2 separate regions of the Homo sapiens genome follow, and region 1 is linked to region 2. The links come from fine-mapping of genetic effects on plasma protein levels. A gene starts in region 2. The other region holds a variant in brackets. All regions are shown on one strand. Distances are between the middles of the regions.

What was found. PIP is the chance, under the fine-mapping model, that this variant and not a neighbour inherited with it causes the effect. The UK Biobank Pharma Proteomics Project read protein levels with antibody pairs (Olink). The fine-mapping took linkage between variants from a reference panel, not from the people measured, so its PIPs are less certain.
Region 1: its variant is fine-mapped to the plasma level of the DKK4 protein (UK Biobank, PIP 0.99).

What each region holds. Positions count from the first base shown.
Region 1 is chr8:43,527,469-43,530,392 of GRCh38, reverse strand. No RefSeq gene overlaps it. Among named protein-coding and RNA genes, the nearest start is that of POTEA, 240 kb to the right of the region's middle. The variant T/C (reference allele first, on the strand shown) is at 1,537.
Region 2 is chr8:42,375,688-42,378,611 of GRCh38, reverse strand. It overlaps DKK4 (dickkopf Wnt signaling pathway inhibitor 4), which reads left to right and starts at 1,383. Exons shown (of 4, transcript NM_014420.3): 1 at 1,383-1,677; 2 at 2,782-2,924. The coding sequence starts at 1,567.

The DNA.
Region 1 (2,924 bases), 1.2 Mb before region 2:
CTTCTGGCTTTAAACATCTGATGAAGTAAAATGAGTCATACCTGGGCCCCTTTGACATATGTCTTGAGCTGGAGAGAAAGCAGATGAAATGCAAGAAGCGGTCTCTTGAGGCTGTGCGGGGATGTAAGGCCCTGGGCCTGGCCCATGAAACCATTCTTTCCTCCTAGGCCTCAGAACCTGTGATGAAAGCAGATGCTGCAAAGCTCTCTCAAATGCCTTGGAAGCCTTTCCCCCATTGTCTTGGCTATTACCACTTGGCTCCTTTTTACATATGCCAATTTCTGAAGTCATCCAAAATTACTCCCCTAAAAATGGGCTTTCTGTTCTACCACATGTCCAGACTACATATATTCCAAACTTTTAATCTCTGCTTTCTCTTTAAATATAAATTCACACTTTAGGTCATTTCTATGCTCACTCATATGAAGACAGGCAATTAGAAGCAGACACACAACCTCTTGAATGCTTCACTGCTTATAAATTTATTATGCTAGATATTCTAAATTATCACACTTAAGTTCAAAGTTTTAAACATCCCTATAAAATGGGCACAAAGCAGCCACATTTTTGGCTAAGGCAAGACAAAAGTGACCTTTGTTCCAATTCCCACTAAATTCCTCATTTCCCTATGAGACCACCTAACCTGGCCTTCACTGTCAGCATTTCTGTCAACATTTTGATCATAATCATTTAAACAATCTCAAAGATGTTCCAAAATTCCCCTTAAATCCCCATCTCCTACTGAGCATGCCAAACTCTAACCTCTGCCCACTACCCAGACCCAAACCTCTTCCCATATTGTCAGGTATCTTTAGTCAAGTGTTTCACTCCTCAGCACCTATTTTCAGTGTTATCATGTGAAAATAAGTTTTAACTGCCTCATAGTTATGCAGCTTGTATAAAAAGCATAGTAGTTTCCACTTCTGAGAGGCCTCATGAAACTTCAAGTCAGAAAGGAGGGCAAAAAAAAGACTGAGACATCTCATATAATAAGCACAGAAGCAAAACAGAAAAAGAGGTACAACCCACTTATAAACAACCAGATCTCATAAAAACTCACTCACTATCATGAAAACAGCATCAAGGGGATGGTGCTATACCATTCATTAATAACCCACCCACATGAGTCCATCAACACCTACTGTCCAAACTTCATCATTAAAAACTAAAATTTGACATCAGTTTTGGCAGGGACATGAAGCCAAACCATATTACCCTGCCCCGTCCCTCCAAACCTCATGTCATTCTAAAAATGCATAACTTGAGAAAAAAGCCTGCAAATTTACCAAACTTTTAAGCTCCACTTCTCATTTAAAGGTAAGTTCTGACTTGAAGTCATTTTTTGGTCCACACATAAGAGAACAGGCTGTTTGACACAGGTGGGACATATCTACAGCTGTGCTAGTTAGAAGTTCATTCCACCGAATATACCCTAAATCATCACCCTCAAGTTCAGAGTTTCACAGATCTCCAGGGCGGGGCCACCATGCAGTCACTTTCTTTGTTAATGCCAAACAAAAGTAACTTTTGCTTCTG[T/C]TCCCAGTAAGTTCCTGATTTCCACCTCAGACCTCCTCACTCTGGCCTTCATTGTCCATTCTTCTGTTGACCTTTTAATCACAACTATTTAACAAGTCTCTACAATGGTCCAAACTTTCTTTTATCTTATTCTGTTCTTCTAAGACCTCCAAACTCTCTGCCTCTGTCTGTTACCCACTTCTAAGCTGTCTTCTACATTTTCAGGTATATTTGTCAAAGCCAGGTAATGAGGTAAAAGAAGAAAAGTCCATTTTCAGAAGTAAAATTCAAGAAGGCTTAGATATATGCATAAAACAAAACCTGAGTGCTAATAGCCAAGACAATGGAAAAAGGGCCTTGAAGGCATTTCATAGCTCCACTCCACAGTACCAATTTTCTCTATGATCATAAAGAAAAGAGGTTTAATTGCCTCATGGTTCTGCAGACTGTAAAGAAGGCAAAGTGGGTTCTACATCTGGCAGGACTCAGGAAGCTTCCCAATTATCCCAGAAGGCCAAGGAGCAAAGAGATGTCCCATATGGCCAAAGTAAGAGCAAGAGAGAGAGGAAAGTGGTGCCACACACTATAAAAAAAAACAAACAAAAAACCCCGCAAATCTCATGAGAACTCAATATCATGAGGACAGCATCAAGGAGATGGTGCTTAACCATTGGTAAAGAATCTGCGCCCCACCCCCATGCCCTGAAAATGTACAATACCCCTCTCTCCAAATAAGCTCCGAGCCCACCACTCTAGTCCTGCAAACTCTGAACACCATCCCCACTTTTCACCTCTCCTCACCTTGGCATCCAGACCCAACCACCAACATGAAATATTATGATATGATGTCAGTTTTAGTAGGAAAATGCAGCCAAATTATATGATTCTGCCCCTGGTCCCCCTCAAATTATACCCTGTGAAGCAGTAACCCAAGCTGTACCTGTACATCTTTGAACCATGACTGGAGCTGGAGTTGCAGCTGGAGCTGGAGCTGCAGGATGCAGGCAGTGGTGTCCTCAGGCTACACACAGAAGCAAGGCCAGGGGTCTGGTAGAGGAAACCATTCTTCTCTCATAGGTCCCAGGGTCAGTGATACCAAGGGCTGCTGCAAAGGTCTCTGAAATGCCTTCAAGCCTTTTCCCCCATTGTCTTGGCTGTTAGCACTGGGCTCCTTTTTATGCAAATTTCTGAAGCCTTCTTTAATTTCCCCCCTGAAAATCAGCTTTTTTTTTTTTTTTTTTTTTTTTTTTTTTTTTGCCACTTGGCCAGGCTGCAAATTTTCCAAACTTTTAAGCTCAGCTTTTCATTTAAACACAAATTTCAACTTGAGGTCATTTGTTTGGTCACACATAAGAGCATAGGTAGTTCAATGCAGGCAGGACACCTCTTGAGCTTTGCTCCTTAGAAGT
Region 2 (2,924 bases):
CTCTTTCCTTTATCCTTGGTCATAATTGTACAACTTGAAAATAAATTCTGTAACACCCCTAGTCACCAGGGTTATCATGCTATCAAAGGGTGTTGTTTGATGTCAGTTTAAGGGATTAAAACAAGTAACTTCCATACGAGAGGTAGACAAGCAATACCAACCCAAGGACAAGGGCCAAGTAGTAGGAAGGCTCGAATCACCTGCATCACCCTCGGAATGGCACTGCATTACTCAAAATTGAGAATGTTCCCATGCACAGAATGCTGAGATTCATGTCAATGAATTGATGTTAGGTTGTTCTGCAGGAAAATGTAGTAAATAATAAGATTATCATTTATGGCATAGAAAAAATGCATTTTAGATGACTCTATGCTAAGAGCAATGAAACAATGAAGAGAAAAAATGATTTTTTGATCCAGATCTAGATTGTTCTACCCTTAAAGTATTTAAGACAGTGATAAGCACATGTCTAAATTACCTGACTAATAGTCCAAATGGAAAAAAATCAGACAGGAAAGGGATGAAGCAGAAGTTTTAAAAAATTCGTATTAGGAAAATTGGAAATACATGAAATTTCATCTGAAATCAGCCAGAGACTTGGATCCTTGTTCTGCTTAAGTGAGTTTTACATAATGCAACACAAATTAAATATGTTGCTGATAAAATGGACCCAAAGCTTCGTACTGAATTGTGTAAAATGCGCTATCATTGTTCCCACCATTGAAAAATGGGATTTTCATAAATTACATTATTTTCCTAATAACCCTAACTTCAAACAGTTCAATTTTCATTTAAAGGAAAGTAATTTCCCAAATGGCATTTAGTCAGAACAGGTGCTGTTACGTTCACAACTTTTAAGCGGTTGGGATTTTGACATCTGGATGCCAGAGCTAATCAGGGGGCGTTTTCTCTTTTTCTATCTGTCCTCACTATCTGAAGCCCAGTTTACAGCTTCTCAGTGTATTTTGTACCTCATTAGTTTTTGGCATCCTCTATAGCATATTGGCCAGTATGATTCATCCTTTCTTTGAGCACAATTAGCTGTGAAAACAGATCTTAGGGCAGACTCCCTCCCTACCCCCAAAGGATTACTGAAGGTAGGAAATGCAGGTGATTATCAGAGTTTGCCTTTGATACAGACATCCTGCTCTGCCGTGGCCCTTTGAACTAACTTTGATATGCAATAATTAAGAGGGATTGAACCCCTGGAGGAGAAGCCGCATGGCCCTGCCTCTTCTCTCCTTCTATTGAGTCCTTGTTTTGAACTATTGATCAAACAGATTTGAAGGGATTTGTTGAAGCCTGTGTGGGGCAGGAGGAAGGAACGGAGCGGGGAGGAGGCACATCTGGTTATAAATAGTTTCAGGAGGAACCTGCTGGTCAGACTTTGCTCAGCCGATTTCACGCACCTTACTCAGACTAAGGTTTACTTCTTTCAGAAAAAGCAGTGACAAACAGACGACGTGCTGAGCTGCCAGCTTAGTGGAAGCTCTGCTCTGGGTGGAGAGCAGCCTCGCTTTGGTGACGCACAGTGCTGGGACCCTCCAGGAGCCCCGGGATTGAAGGATGGTGGCGGCCGTCCTGCTGGGGCTGAGCTGGCTCTGCTCTCCCCTGGGAGCTCTGGTCCTGGACTTCAACAACATCAGGAGCTCTGCTGACCTGCATGGGGCCCGGAAGGTAAGGCTGCTAGGGAGGGGGGCGAGGTACGGGACTGCTGACAGCTGGGGTGTTTTGTTTAGGCTTTAGTAAGTCATTCTGATTCATGTATGAAATGTCTTACCTAGCAGGTAAATTGAATTGGTTTCGGATTTGGGAGGGCATCCTGGTAGGATCAGTGGCCTTAGTGTGAATGTATGAAATAAACACAGTGGCTTTTCACATCATTCGGCCATACGTTTGTCTATAAATCACGAAATAAACGAACACTTTGGAAGCTCTACTATGTGCCAGCTCTTTTACATGTAATACGTCATGTACTCTTCCTCACAATTTGAGATAGGTGAAACATTCCCTAATTCCAGATGAGGAAATAAGACTCAGAGATGTTGAAGAGCTTACCCAAGCTCACACAGCCAGCAAGCAAACATGGGAATGAGAATTTAAACAGAGGGCCATGATGCATTGCCTTGTCACCATCTAACTTCACAGAGAGAGTTGTTTTAGGAATCGCTTTATGTATGTGTATATGTTATTATATATCGTATAGATTATTACATATATCATATATGCTACACCTACGTTGTATGTCTATGTAGAAGCATCAACTGTGTATGAGAACAATTGATCTTCGGTATCTCTTTCTCTATGTCAATGAGGCATCATTGAAAATCAAAGGACAGTTCACTTAGGGAAGGGTCTCTAAGCTAAATGTGATTCACTAGAGTAAAAAATCAAATAGGAATGCCACAAACATCAATAGTATGTTTAATGAAACTGTAGCCAGCTTCTAGAGTTAAGATATATTGAAAATCTCATACTCACCTGTTAAGACACACATAGGAAAACATTTTTTCCCATTTTCACAAAGAGCACAGGAAAACTAAATTCTGAGTTAAGTCAATTTTTCAAACTCAAATAGCCTTTGCAGCGCCTAGGTCTCCCCGGGTGACATGAGCTTCCCTTTGTGGGAGAAAACCATTTCCACTGGAGAGTAAGATGCTGCCCAGGGTTTGTCACAGCGCCACTGTCCTTTGGCTCCCTCCGCCTCCTGCCTTCAATAATAAGTCATCTTCCATCGTGTTGGGGGTTTCCTAGCCTTGTGATAACAGATTCCCTCCACAGGGCTCACAGTGCCTGTCTGACACGGACTGCAATACCAGAAAGTTCTGCCTCCAGCCCCGCGATGAGAAGCCGTTCTGTGCTACATGTCGTGGGTTGCGGAGGAGGTGCCAGCGAGATGCCATGTGCTGCCCTGGGACACTCTG